Linked DNA regions of Homo sapiens. The protein of the gene in region 1 purifies or fractionates together with the protein of each later gene. This does not show direct contact. Each region holds a gene or a part of one and is shown in the gene's direction. Other genes may lie near its edges.

Evidence for each region. The genes of interacting proteins can lie anywhere in the genome.
Region 2: the proteins of KCNC4 (region 1) and NPLOC4 purify together in Homo sapiens (affinity purification with mass spectrometry; 2 studies listed by BioGRID and IntAct, with this or other methods). This does not show direct contact.
Region 3: the proteins of KCNC4 (region 1) and BRAF purify together in Homo sapiens (affinity purification with mass spectrometry; 2 studies listed by BioGRID and IntAct, with this or other methods). This does not show direct contact.
Region 4: the proteins of KCNC4 (region 1) and ESYT1 purify together in Homo sapiens (affinity purification with mass spectrometry; 2 studies listed by BioGRID and IntAct, with this or other methods). This does not show direct contact.

What each region holds. Positions count from the first base shown.
Region 1 is NC_000001.11:110,223,814-110,227,313, forward strand, and holds part of KCNC4 (voltage-gated potassium channel KCNC4), read left to right. Parts: coding exon 1-87; intron 88-2,161; coding exon 2,162-2,365; intron 2,366-3,500. UniProt on the Homo sapiens protein: Voltage-gated potassium channel that opens in response to the voltage difference across the membrane, forming a potassium-selective channel through which potassium ions pass in accordance with their electrochemical gradient.
Region 2 is NC_000017.11:81,567,613-81,571,112, reverse strand, and holds part of NPLOC4 (nuclear protein localization protein 4 homolog), read left to right. Parts: intron 1-2,001; coding exon 2,002-2,097; intron 2,098-3,500. UniProt on the Homo sapiens protein: The ternary complex containing UFD1, VCP and NPLOC4 binds ubiquitinated proteins and is necessary for the export of misfolded proteins from the ER to the cytoplasm, where they are degraded by the proteasome.
Region 3 is NC_000007.14:140,778,430-140,781,929, reverse strand, and holds part of BRAF (serine/threonine-protein kinase B-raf), read left to right. Parts: intron 1-236; coding exon 237-354; intron 355-3,500. UniProt on the Homo sapiens protein: Protein kinase involved in the transduction of mitogenic signals from the cell membrane to the nucleus. Phosphorylates MAP2K1, and thereby activates the MAP kinase signal transduction pathway. Phosphorylates PFKFB2.
Region 4 is NC_000012.12:56,138,267-56,141,720, forward strand, and holds part of ESYT1 (extended synaptotagmin-1), read left to right. Parts: coding exon 1-6; intron 7-137; coding exon 138-233; intron 234-501; coding exon 502-573; intron 574-660; coding exon 661-747; intron 748-3,454. UniProt on the Homo sapiens protein: Binds calcium (via the C2 domains) and translocates to sites of contact between the endoplasmic reticulum and the cell membrane in response to increased cytosolic calcium levels.

The sequences.
Region 1 (3,500 bases):
CTGAGGAGACTTCCCCCCGGGACAGCACCTGCAGTGATACCAGCCCCCCTGCCCGGGAAGAGGGTATGATCGAGAGGAAACGGGCAGGTGAGATTAGGGGTTGGGAAGGAAAATCCCTTTTCCCCCAGTGGCCTAGGGAGTTTCCAAATGGACCTCAGACCTTGGGATTTGGCATGTGTTTTGTGTGGGGCTTCCCTAAGCATAAAGATGTGCCTTTATGAGGGCAAAGTGTTGAGGCCGAATTTCTCTGTCCTCTGGCTGGGTCTCCGATAGCTTCCCGAACATCAGATCTTTGGAGTGAGTATTCCACCCAGGGTAGGGTGTGATGGGCAGTACATGGGGCTGTATATTAGATGCCCTGGTTTTAAATCCAATCTTGGCCACTGTGCTGTGTGCCCTGAGGCCAGTCACTCACCCTCTCTAGGCACCTGTAAAATGGGAATAATATCATATCCTACCCTCAAGACTTTGAGAGACCCAAATGAATGACAGATATGAAAGTACTTTGGGAAGTCAGAACCACATTACAAATGTCAGGTACTGTCAATATTAGCCAGTGAGCAGGGCAGCTGTTCTTCCAAGGTACATCAACACATGAATCACTTCTTTGCAAACGTTCGAGTCTGGTATCTTGGCCTAATAAATGTGATAACGTAATAGCAGTGGGAGGCTGCCTTCTGTTCAGCACAAGCTAGATTGAGTCCTGGGCTCAGGGTTTGACATGGGATGGAAAGGAACTGAGGAAGGAGTGGCCCAGACAGTGTTGGGAAGGGGAGGAACATGGAAGAAACTGATATCTGTGCCCTGGAAGGGGAGAGCCTGGGCATCTGAATCCTGTCCCTCAAGGATGGGAAAGGCCATCCCAAGAAAGCTCATCTCCGCCCCTGAATCAGGAGTTGGGAAATGGAAAACTGCTTAATCCCCAGCAATGTGAACTTCGGTTGGAGAGAGGGAAAGGCATCCTGACTGTTATGTGTAGGCTGGGCTCCTGGGAAAGGTATGGAATTCCTGGTATGGGGAGGTGGACTGGAGCCAGGAGACTAAGGCTAAGCTCTGGGGCAAAGTGGGACTGACCCTGCAGGAGAGGCGCCTAGCTTGGGACACTCACCTATGGCCTTTGGCATGTGCCTATCATACATGCCCGGGTCCACTCATTCCCGGGGGTCATGTCAGGGGCCTGGGTCTTCCGAAGGCCTTGATAGAAGAGCATCCATCAGGCTTCCCATTTCTCCCCCACCAAAGTGGCACTGCTTCCTAATTTGTGAATATTAATTTCCCGGGGAATTTCAGCTGCACTCTGAGGCCCATTCAGGGTATAAAGAGAATCCCAGTATTAAAACGTAGAAGTCCTTAGGTCAGCTCCTCAAGGTACACTTAACTGTGGCCCTATCAGCCTTGCCCTTAGCCTGACCCTGAGAGCAGCCACAGTAAGGGCATGCCTGGCCAATGGCAGGGCCACTGTCTTCAGATAGAGTAGCACCCCCTTCTCCAGATCCAAGGGCCCAGCTTCACCTGTGCTACTGCCTGACAGAGGCAAGGGGTGGAGACTAAGCCCACAGCACTTGAGAGCTGCGTCGGAGCTTTTCTCATGGTATCCTCCCCAGACAAAGGTCAGCCCTAATTGCGGAGGGCTCTAGGTCTTTTGGGCACAGGACTCTGGCCTAGATGCCTAGTGAACAAGAATTACTGTCACCCAGGGAGAAAGCATGGACGCCACTTTATAGGTTTAACCCTTGCCGTGCCACCCCTCACCGCTAGCAAGCCAGGTATTCTCCACGGGAAAGCAGACTCATCCAAGAGTCAGCCTGAGCCAGACCCAAGGAGGAAGTAGAGTCTGCGGACTGCTTTGGGCTGATCTCCTGGGGCAGCCGTCAGCAGGCAGATTTGGGGAGTCACTGCTGTAGGGCATCTGCACTGTGGCTTCATCCCTGAGGAGAGACCCTAAGCTGAGGCTGGGAGGGAAGTCAGTCTTCACACCAAGTGTAGCATCCCTGCCTTTTGCCCTCTGCTCCCCGGCTCTGGCAATGCTGCCTCTCAGGTAGATGCTAGGCCCCTCCCAAGGTTGAGGAAGTAACACTCTGGGTCTGGGAGACCCCAGATGACCCATGAGCAAGGCTCAGGTCGCCCCTCATGCAGCCTCCTTTCTGTGTGCCCCCTTCAGACTCTAAGCAGAATGGCGATGCCAACGCAGTGCTGTCTGATGAGGAGGGAGCTGGCCTCACCCAACCCCTGGCCTCCTCCCCGACCCCCGAGGAGCGCCGGGCCCTGCGACGCTCCACCACTCGAGACAGAAACAAGAAGGCAGCTGCCTGCTTCCTGCTCAGCACTGGGGACTATGCCTGCGCCGATGGTAGTGTCCGGAAAGGTATGGCTTCCCAAGCTGGACAGGTGGGGAGCCCCCACAGAGCTGAGTCTCCCGAGTCCCCCACCAAGAGCCTGAGGTCCCCCCCTCCCCTGAGACCGTGGCCGCCATCTCCTCTGCCTTGGATGCACCCCCACTTTTAGAATGGGTACCTGATCTCCCAGTCCCTGGATTAGAAAGGTCTTCTCCATCTCAGAAGGGCACACGGCTCCCATCCAGCTGCCCATGGGAAAGAGCAGCGCTAGAGGGTAAAGGGTGCACAAGGCCAGGGTCCCTGCCCCGTGCTTCCATTGCATCTCTTTTTCTACCTCTGGTTCCCGCTGCTGCCTTCAGGCCCCATTCCACAGGGTCACTGCCAGCCTCTCCCTAGGCCTCCCTTAAACACAGCTAAGGCTTCCCAAGTAGGTGACCCCTCGAGGTGCCAACAACGTTCAAGAGTCAGGGAGCCCCACACAGGCCCTGCATCCTCCCATCCTGCGCCAGGGGTCCTGGAGCACAGGATGGGCAGACTTCCGTCTGCAAGCACCTAGAGGGTGACTGTCCTCTTGAGGCAGTGCCAGAGATGACCAAGGGGTGGGATAGGTGGGCAGGAAGAGTGGGTCCCATCTGAGGAATGTTCTGAGTATTTGGAGAGAGAGGGAGCAGCCCATCCTCTGCTTGTCGGAAAAGGCTGAAATTCCATCCCCAGGCCCCAAGCCTGCGGCAAGGCAAGGGCAGAGGTTGGGCTGTGGAGCTAGGGATTCCTGGCCTCGGAAAGCGGGTAGGAATGATCAAGGATGGTGGAGGGCCCGCGGTGGCTGAGAACCAGGGGTCTTAGGACCAGGCCCTCCTACCCAGTTTTCGATCACTTATTCGTCTCTCTTGCCCTGTCCCTGTTACCTAACCTCACTCAATGTTCTACCTCTTTCTAGAATAAACCCTGACTCCCTCCAAAACAGAGCTCTTCCCCAGGTTCTCTGCCACTTCTTAACCAGCTGGATTTCCCATCCCCCACTTCCCTCTGTCCCCAAACCCCAGACCCAAACTAGGTTGAGTGAGGAAGGGGCAGTGGCAGCTACAGGAATAGCCTGTGATGCCTCTGTCCCTCTGAAGATGTCCCAATGTCCCGTGGCCTGCCAGCCCATGCAGGCTCTGTGGG
Region 2 (3,500 bases), on another chromosome or scaffold:
GAGAACATATTTATTACCTAGGCCGTGAAGGCATCTGGTTTTTAGACTACCTAGGGTGTAATTAAGATGAAAACAGATTGATGGAGCATGCACCCAGGAGGAGCAGGCATGATTTAAAACCAGCTTTCTCAGGTCTTCTACCCCAAGCAGCCTCCCCACTTCTTTCCTCTTCTTTTATAAAGGAAGTTAAGTTTTTGCCTTAGTGCAGTTTTTCAGAAGTACTTGTTTGTGGGAGAGCATTCTGCTCTGTGATGCCCAGGCTCCTTGACCCTGTGGAAGTGAGGCATGGGGAGTCCTTGAGAGCAGGTGCCCAGAGAGGTGTGTCAAGCTCCATGCCCAGCCCTGGGCCACAGGCGCTGGCCTCAGCCAAGGTTCTTAAACCTTGGGATGGGATGGCTGGGCAGGCAGGAAAAGGCACCAGCCAGTGTTACTGGGGTTTCTTTGTGGGTTCTGGGGGCATCATCTGGCTGATAGACGATGGGTAGGGTAGGGAAATGGCTTCAGTGTAAGATGGGAGCTGATGCCCTTCCTTGGGACATCTGGGATGGGCTGTGTGGACTTTGGTTCTGTTCCCCTCCAAGGGCCAGTTACAAGGCCAGCAAGAGCCCCCGTCAGTCCCACTAGCTCACTCACTAGCACGTGTTCTGGGGGTGCCGCCTTCTTCATTTCTAGGCCTTCCCAAGGGACGCGCCTGAGCAGGCCAGGCTTTTGTCTCTGCAGGAGGTCAGCACCTCCCCTGTCTTCAGCTGGGACCCAGCACTGTGTGTACCAACACTATGTGTACCAGCCCCGTGCTGGGCACCCAGGAGGCGAGTACTCCGATCATCTTCATCCTGAGGAAGAGTAAAGTGAGGCCCAGGATCCCTAACTGACGAGGCCATGTAGCCGACACGTGGCACCGCGGCCCGAGTCTTCATGACCCACCCCGCCGCTTGCCCATGAAGGGCCAGCTCAGGCCAGAGATGCTGCTGGTGGCTCAGCTGTCCTTCCACAGCGGCTGGCGCTGGCACAGCAAATCCTGGGCCAGCTAGCTCAACAACTCACTGCCTTTGCTGATGCAGAAAACAGACCAGAACCACACTCATTCTTTAGAAATAGTCCCAAAGGAACCAGAATAGTTCCCCTAAATCTGGAAGAGGTGTGACCTCTGCTGCTGCTGTTGTGTTGCAGAGAAAAGCAGCATCAACTCAACTCGGTGCTGCTTTGGGGAGGGGTGTCTGTCACGAAGAATAAAAGTGGTATTTCTATTGATTCTTGCACATTTACCACTGTCCCTGTAGCATCTATTGATTATATCTTAGGTGCAAAGTGCCCTCTGTTGTCATTAAGGCCTGTCTGAGCCAGTGAAGGACTGAAGGACTTAGCTGGCCTTTGGGTATCAGCTCTGAGGGAGAGAGAAGAGCTGAACCCTGTGTTCCTCAAGGGCCTTACATTCACCCCTGCCTGGAAAAGCCCACAGCTCCGTGGAGTGGCTCCCAGCATTCAGAAGGGGCTTAGTGAGCTGCTGAAGGGTGCTTTGTGTCTTGAAAGCTGGCTGATTGCTCATTTGCCCTCCGAATCCAATGACACGAATCTCTCTTGAGCAAAGTCAGCTCCTGGGGCGGCCTCCTGGCCCTTCCGTTCCTTTCCTGTCACCTGGCCAAGGGGCCAAACCAGCCTTTCGTTCCTCCATAGCAGAGGGAGAGAACCTGTGTGACTCTGAAGGGAAGCTGTGCCACGAGGGGAGTCCCAGTGCCCTTTTTGTCCGACGTCGAGGCCGGTGCACAGGCCGGAGGCTGCCCGGATATGGTGTAGTTTGTCTCCAGGATGGCGGAGTTTCCAAGTGTTCGTTTAGAGATGACACTAATAGATAACGGTTCCCTTTGATGGAGAGCTTGTAGAACATTCTCAGAATTGCTAGGAGTCGTTAATTTGGGCTCTGGGAGATGCTCTGGGCTGGCTGGGAGTCGGCCACACCATTTTCAGCCTCATTTATCATGGGTTTGTGTTTTTCTTCATTAGATCACAACAACTTTCCCCAAGGATCCAGTTTACACTTTTTCTATTTCGCAAAATCCATTTCCTATTGAAAACCGGGATGTATTGGGTGAGACACAGGTGAGCTCTTTGTCTTTAGAAACATAATTTAAGGTAACTGCTGATTGTTATCTAGTGTCAGTATTGTTTTTCCAGAAAACATCAAGCTTTCAAATGCTCCCGATTCATTCTTGTGACAGGCCAGCTAGGGCCTACTGTGGGGCACTGCTGGTCACGTGGACGCCCTTCCCATGGCTAGGTGATGGACGGCCACAAAGGCTAATCCCCTGACGTCCTGACTGGCCACATCTTCAGTGGACCTCGTAATTTTCCCAAATGTGTTGCTTTGTGTCTTCTGCCAGCAGCCTCGTCACTGTTGGTTTGGCCTGGCCCCTGCCTGGTCACCTGCTGCCCTTCTTAGGCACCTTGGGGCTGTGTGGCCCCTCTCGGCCTGGCCTCGGCTTTCCCGTGTGTAGTGTTGATCTGCTGCTTAGCGTGGCTCCCGTGTTGGCCTCTGCTCTCACTGGCAGATCAGGCCAGGTCCGATTTGCTGTCACGCCTGCATACTGTGTAGACAGGCTGTGTACACATGGTTGTTCTTAAATCATAACTTGCTAACAGACATTTCAGAAGGTGGTCAAAGAATGTCTATAATGAGGTTTTCTTCAGTGGCTGACAAAGCTTCTTCTATGCTTTGATCCCCTCAGTGCCCATCCGCCCAGGGGACTTGGGGTGCTCACAGAGGTGCAAAGCCAGTTATTGGGGTGCACTCTTGAAGCTCTGTGTTTGGTTCTGCTGAAGATGTCCGTGCTGCATCACGGCTGCCCTGCACATTCCTCCCTCTTGCTGCCCTAGATGGAGAATACAGCTCGACAGGAAAAGTCAGACCTGTCTCCCTGCCGTGAAGGGGGCCCCAGGCCCCTCCCGCAGCCCACTCTCCACCGGGGGACCAGGGCGCATTTCCATGTTTGTGTCTCTGTCTGAGTCAGCCTTTTTTTTTTTTTTTTTTTTTTTTTGGAAGACAGAGTCTCACTCTATCACCCAGGCTGGAGTGCAGTGGTGCGATCTTGGCTCACTACAACCTCCACCTCCTGGGTTCAAGCGATTCTTCTGCTTCAGCCTCCTGAGTAGCTGGGATTATAGGTGCGCGCCACCAAGCCTGGGTAATTTTTTTTGTATTTTTAGTAGAGACGGGGTTTCGCCATGTTGGCCAGACTGGTCTCGAACTCCTGACCACCTGCCTGCCTCGGCCTCCTAAAAAGTGCTGGAATTACTGTGTTAGCCTCCACACCTGGCCAGTCTGAGTCAGCTTTATAAGCATGTCTCCTTGCACATCTGGGTAGTCAGGTGTGCTGAGAGCATCTTCTTGGGAGAAGAGAGCAAGAGCTTGCTTTGCAGCTGCCTGCTCCTCTTTCTTGGACCCTGTTCGTGGTTGCAGAGGCAGAGGGAGAGGTGTCTCAGCATTCAGTGTATTGAGTTGCGTC
Region 3 (3,500 bases), on another chromosome or scaffold:
GTATAATAAAATAAAAAATAAAAATAAATTTTTTCCATCCTAATATTGACTTCAGTCTTAAATTTAAGTTTTGTATTTTAAGAGTCATACTTTTAACTACTATTCTTCCAGAGAATTTTTCTTAAGGGGATCTCTTCCTGTATCCCTCTCAGGCATAAGGTAATGTACTTAGGGTGAAACATAAGGTTTTCTTTTTCTGTTTGGCTTGACTTGACTTTTTTACTGTTTTTATCAAGAAAACACTTGGTAGACGGGACTCGAGTGATGATTGGGAGATTCCTGATGGGCAGATTACAGTGGGACAAAGAATTGGATCTGGATCATTTGGAACAGTCTACAAGGGAAAGTGGCATGGTAAGTATGTAATGTGGTGACATTGTGACAAGTCATAATAGGATATGTTTAACAACTTTTATTTTGTAAAAAATATCATCAAAGGAAATATTCACTGTTCGCATCAATAAACTATTTTGATTAGTTTCAGGACTCCTCCAAAAGTTTCTAACAAAAATTATGGGAAATAAAAACTGTTCACAGCAGTCGGGACTCCTACCATTTTATTACAGTAATAATTTTTAAAGGGGAATTCCTCCAGGTTAACTAGTCCTCAAAAGGATTTTATTTTCTTTTAGAGTCTTTCAGCTGATAATTTTATTTGTATTATAAGTCACAAGTAAACATATTAAAAATGTACTTAATGGCTGGGCGCAGTGGCTTATGCCTGTAATCCCAGCACTTTGGGAAGCTGAGGCTGGCTGATCACGAGGTCAGGAGATCAAGACCATACTGGCCAACATGGTGAAACCCCATCTCTACTAAAAATACAAAAATTAGCTGGGTGTGGAAGCACGTGCCTGTAGTCCCAGCTACTTGGGAGGCTGAGGCAGGAGAATCACTGGAACCCAGGAGGCGGAGGTTGCAGTGAGCTGAGATTACGCCACTGCACTCCACCCTGGTGACAGTGAGACTCCGTCTCAAAAAAAAAAAATTAACAAAGAAATATAAGTGGCCAGTAAACATATACAAAATGTTCAGCCTTACTAGTTATCAAAGAATTGCAAATTCAAAAAATAGACATCATTATTTGCCTCTTAGTTGGACAAAATCTTTTTAAATTGGATTATATTAAGAGTAGTGGATGTATTTTCATCAAAGGTTTAATATCAATGAAAAGTGAAAGTGAACATGTATCCAACTAATAGAGAATTGGATAAATTTATACCATCATATGTGATTATATAGGAGTTAAAATGGCATGGTAGAGGTACATTTATTGATGTAGAAAGGTGTCTTTGGTATATGAAATTTTTCAAAGCAGTATGTGTAAGATACCATATTATGGAGCTCATAGAAATATATAACATAATTTTTTATATGACAGTATTTTAGGCCAGGCACAGTGGCTCACGCCTGTAATCCCAGCACTTTGGGAGGCCGAGGCAGGTGGATCACCCAAGGTCAGGAGTTCGAGACCAGCTTGGCCAACATAGTGAAACCTCATCTCTACTAAAAATACAAAAAATTAGCCAGGCTTGGTGGTGGGCGCCTGTAATCTCAGCTACTCAGGAGGCTGAGGCAGGAGAATTGCTTGAACCTAGGAGGTGGAGGTTGCAGTGAGCCGAGATCCCGCCATTGCACTCCAACCTGGATAACAGCGAGACTGTCTTAAAAAAAAAAAAAAAAAAGACTGTGTTTTAGTTTTTATCTCCTTAATCTATCTTTTCACAGGTGTTCATAAATATTCACACTAAATTCATGTAAAAGCCTAATAACATATAATGTCACTTTTGAGTGACATAATTAAGGGAATTTTTTTATACCTTCAAAATGTCTTTAAACTTTTCTTAAGTGCTGTACAGTATTTTATGATACAAACAGTAGAATAAGCACTGTATTACTTTGATAATTGAGGAAAATCAATGTTGATTTAACTTATTAAAATATACATACAGGTTGAGTATCTTTATTTATTTATTTTTGTTTGTTTTGTTTTGTTTTGAGACAAGGTCTCGCTCTGTCGCCCAGGCTGGAGTGCAGTGGCACAATCTCAACTCACTACAACCTCTGCCTCCCAGATTCAAGCAGTTCTCCTACCTCAGCCTCCTGAGTAGCTAGGATTATAGGCGCGTACCACCACCCCTGGCTAATTTTTGTATTTTGAGTAGAGACGAGTTTTGCCATGTTGGCCAGGCTGTTCTCAAACTCCTGACCTCAGGTGAGCCACCCACCTTGGCCTTCCAAAGTGCTGGGATTACAGGTGTGAGGCAGCACACCTGGCCAGGTTGGGTATCTTTAATCCAAAATCCCAAACCCGAAATGCTCCAAAATCCAAAACTTTCTGAGTGCTGACATGATGCTCAAAGGAAATGCTTATTGGAGGATTTCATATGTTTGGATTAGGGATGTTAAACTGGTAAGTATAATCAAAATATTCCAAAATCAGAAAAAATTTGAAATTTGAGACACTTCTGGTCCCAGGCATTTTGGATAAGGGATACTCAGCCTGTGTATAAAAGTGCACATAAATTAGCCAGGCATGGTGGCATGTGCCTGTACTCCCAGCTATTGAGGAGGCTGAGGTGGGAGAATGGCTTGAGCCCAGGAGTTCAAGGCTGCAGTGAGCCATGATCACACCACTGCACTCCATCCAGCCTAGGTGACAGAGCAAGACTCTGTCTCTAAAAAAATTAAATAAACAGAACATTACTAGCACTCTAGAAACACCCTCCCATGTCCTCTTCTAGCCAATCACCTCTCTCCCAAGGGTAACCACCACTGTGATTACAACAGGAAGTGCATAGTGTGTACTCTTTTGTGTCGGCCCTTTTCACTCAACATTGTTTATAAGATTCATCTATATTGTTGTGTGAAGTTGGAGGTCATTCATTCTCTTTACAGTATTTCATTGTGTGACTATAACATGATTTCTTCTTTCATCTGTTGCAATTGGATCGTTTCCAGTTTGGGGCTTTGATTGATGCTGGTGCTGTAAACATTTTTAGTGTATGTCTTTTGGTGAACATGTAACCATTGATGGGTATATATACCTAGGACAGAATTGTGAGACCACAGGGTATGCATATGTCCAGTTTTAGTAATGCTGCCAACAATGTTACAAAGTAGTTGTACCAATTTAAACACCTACTGGCAGTGTTGACGTTACAGCTGTTTCACATAAAGTTTTTTTTTTTTGATGATTTTAATAAAATATCATTTTCTTTTTTTATTATTATTATACTTTTAAGTTTTAGGGTACATGTGCAAAGTGTGCAGGTTAGTTACATATATATACATGTGCCATGCTGGTGTGCTGCACCCATTAACTCACATGAAGTTTTTTTTAAATTTTAGTGACAGTTTTAGTCATTTTCCTAATTGAAAGTATCATAAGTAATCCATAAATTTGAAAAAAATGTTAACTACTCTGATAAAAAAGTTTTATAGTTTCCTACTTTTAAGCAAAATTCCATAGGGCCTGGTAATTGTAGTTTCAACATTAC
Region 4 (3,454 bases), on another chromosome or scaffold:
GAGGAGGTAGGGCAGGAGACTTGAGGAAGGAAGGGACCCAAGGTGGGGCAGGATGAGCTCTTCTCTTAGCGTTCAAGGCACATGCCAGAACCCAAGGTGTCAGTTACCACTCCCCAGCCCCGTGTGCCCCTCCACAGGTGCTGCAGGTGAATAGTTTGATCCAGACTCAGAAGAGTGCGGAGCTGGCTGCGGCCCTGCTATCCATCTATATGGAGCGGGCAGAGGACCTCCCGGTGAGATCCCGCTCCCCATGCCCCATAACTTCCTGGCCCTTCTTCCACCTTCCTCCGGTTTGGATGGTCCTGGAGTATTTAGAATAAGAAAAATGGCCCCTCTCTTTCTGAGGGTAGTGCAGGGGTGGGAAAAGTTGTCTGTTCAAGGCCACGGGTAGTGGCTGCCAAGTAATAATGGAGACATGGCTGCTGGCTGTGGATATAATTTGTGAGGGGGATCTGCCTAACTAGGTCCAAATTTAAGACTAACACAGTATTGTCTTTCTAGCTGCGAAAAGGCACCAAGCACCTCAGCCCTTATGCTACTCTCACTGTGGGAGATAGTTCTCATAAAACCAAGGTATGAAGAAATGCTGCAGGGTAAAAATGGGAGGGATAAGAGAAATAAGAGTATCAGCTACTGATCATAAGCCCTCATCTCCACCAGACTATTTCGCAAACTTCAGCCCCTGTCTGGGATGAGAGTGCCTCCTTTCTCATCAGGAAACCACACACTGAGAGCCTAGAGTTGCAGGTACTGTAAATTCATTCTTCAAATATTTAGCAGATTTCTGCCATGGCCAGGCAGGAAACCAGGCACAGAGCATTCAGAGATGAGATAAAAGGTTGACTTTTTTTTTTTTTTTTGAGACAGAGTCTTGCTCTGTCGCCCAGGCTGGAGTGCAGTGGTGCTATCTTGGCTCACTGCAAGCTCCGCCTCCTGGGTTCACACCATTCTCCTGCCTCAGCCTCCCAAGTAGCTGGGACTACAGGTGCCCGCCACCACACCTGGCTAATTTTTGCATTTTTTTTAGTAGAGATGGAGTTTCACCATGTTAGCCAGGCTGGTCTCGAACTCCTGACCTCAGGTGATCCGCCCACCTCGGCCTCCCAAAGTGCTGGAAATACAGGTGTGAGCCACCGCACCCGGCCAAAAGATTGACTTCTTATCTTTATGGAGCTCACACTCTGTTTTGGGAGAAAAATAACCAGATGAAACTTTCAGAATGATAACTGAGGTAAAAGGCACTGTGGGGAAGAAAGGAAGGGTTCAGGCTGGGGAAAGGCTGGAGATAGAAAGGCATCCTTAGATGACCCCTGAGCTTGAGGGTAGATTTTTTTTTTTTTTTTTTGAGACTAGAGTCTCACTCTTATTGCCCAGGCTAGAGTGCAGTGGCGCAATCTCAGCTCACTGCAACCTCAGCCTTCCAGGTTCAAGCGATTCTCCTGCCTCAGCCTCCCGCGTACCTGGGATTACATGCGCGTGCCACCATACCCCACCAATTTTTAGTAGAGACGGGGTTTTGCCATGTTGGCCAGGCTGGTCTTGAACTCCTGACCTCAGGTTATCCATCCACCTCAGCCTCCCAAAGTGCTGGGATTATAGGTGTGAGCCACTGCACCCGGCCTTTTTTTTTTTAGACAGGGTCTTACTCTGTCGCCCAGGCTGGAGTGCCGTGGTGCAATCAGGGCTCACTACAGCCTCAACTCTTGGGCTCTAGCAATCCTCCTACCTCAGCTGGGATAACAGGTGCACACTACCACACCTAGCTAATTTTTGTATTTTTTTGTGGAGATGAGGTTTTACCATGTCATCCAGGCTGGTCTCGAACTCCTGGACTCAAGCATTCTGCCCGCCTCGGCATCCCAAAGTGCTGGGATTACAAGCGTGAGAACCGCGCCCCAGCCTAAGGGTAGATTTACTGGTTCTTTCGGACCACGAAAAGAAGAGCAGGAAAACTCTTTAGGCTGAGAAAAAAAATGGAGGAGAGAGAAGGCATATTTATTATAGATCAGAGAGGCAGGCAGAGCAAGATCATAGGAGCTGTTGAATAGTATGCTAGAAATATGGATTTTATCCTAAGGCTTAGGGAAGCCTTTGTTTATTTTATTTATTATTTTTTTGAAACAGAGTCTTGCTCTGTTGCCCAGGCTGGAGTACAGTGATACGATCTCAGCTCACTGCAACCTCCCTCCTGGGTTCAATCGATTCTCCTGCCTCAGCCTCCCGAGTAGATGGGATTATAGGTGCCCGCCACCACGCCCAGCTAATTTTTGTATTTTTAAGAGAGACGGGGTTTCACCATGTTGGTCAGGCTGGTCTCTAAGTCCTGACCTCAAGTGATCCACTGCCTCGGCCTCCCAAAGTGCTGGAATTACAGGCGTCAGCCACCACACCCAGTCAGGGAAGCCTTTAATGAGAGGTCACATATCCAGATTTGCATTTTGGGAAGATCATAGGGATAAGAGGGTAAAGAATGGACTGGAGAGGGACAACACTGGGGGCAGGGAGATCAGTGAGGAGACTGTTAGAGCAGTCAAAGCAGGAAACGACTAAAGCCTGATGGGATTTGAAGATTGCTGTGATATGGAGCAGGTGGAGGAGCAAGGAACAGCCTAGACACTAACTCTGGGGTTTTTGGCACAGGGTGGCTAGATGGATAAGGGTGCCGTTGCTGACTTAGGGAGTGCACAGAGAGGGAATTTTGGAATTTGAGATCTCTGCAGGACATCCAAGAGAAGACATGCAGAAAACAAATCTATTGTCCATGAGGTGTTCCTCCCTTGCCCTCTTATTGGAACATCATGAGCAAGCAACCACTCATAAGTGTAGTCATGGGTGAGATCTCTTAGGCAGCGTGGAGAGTGAGGAGACAAAAGATGGCCATGAGCCATCTTACAGGTGTGAACCACTGTGCCCGGCTGAAATTAATAGAATTTAAAATAATGTAACTTAATGCTAGCAGAGTAGAAAGGAGGTACAAATGAGCTCAGTTCTTCATCTTTTATAGCAGGGAATCAATAGATACAAGCATATTAGAATTCCGTGAGAACAAAGAAAACAGGAGGGTTTTAAAGGTTGTTACATTTGGAATATGGCAATAGGAGTAGGATGGGCAAGAAACATTTACTTTTAGTTCTGTTTTTACTGTTGTTTTCTGTATGCTGTAGGTATTACTGGTATAATTTCTGAAAGCTAGGTTGGGCGCGGTGGCTCACGCCTGTAATCCCAGCACTTTGGGAGGCCAAGGCGGGCAGATCACAAGGTCAGGAGATCGAGACCATCCTGGCTAACACGGTGAAACCCTGTCTCTATTAAAAATACAAAAAATTAGCCGGGTGTGGTGGCGGACACCTGTAGTCCCAGCTACTTGGGAGGCTGAGGCAGGAGAATGGCGTGAACCCAGGAGGCGGAGCTTGCAGTGAGCTGAGATTGCGCCACTGCACTCCAGCCTGGGCAA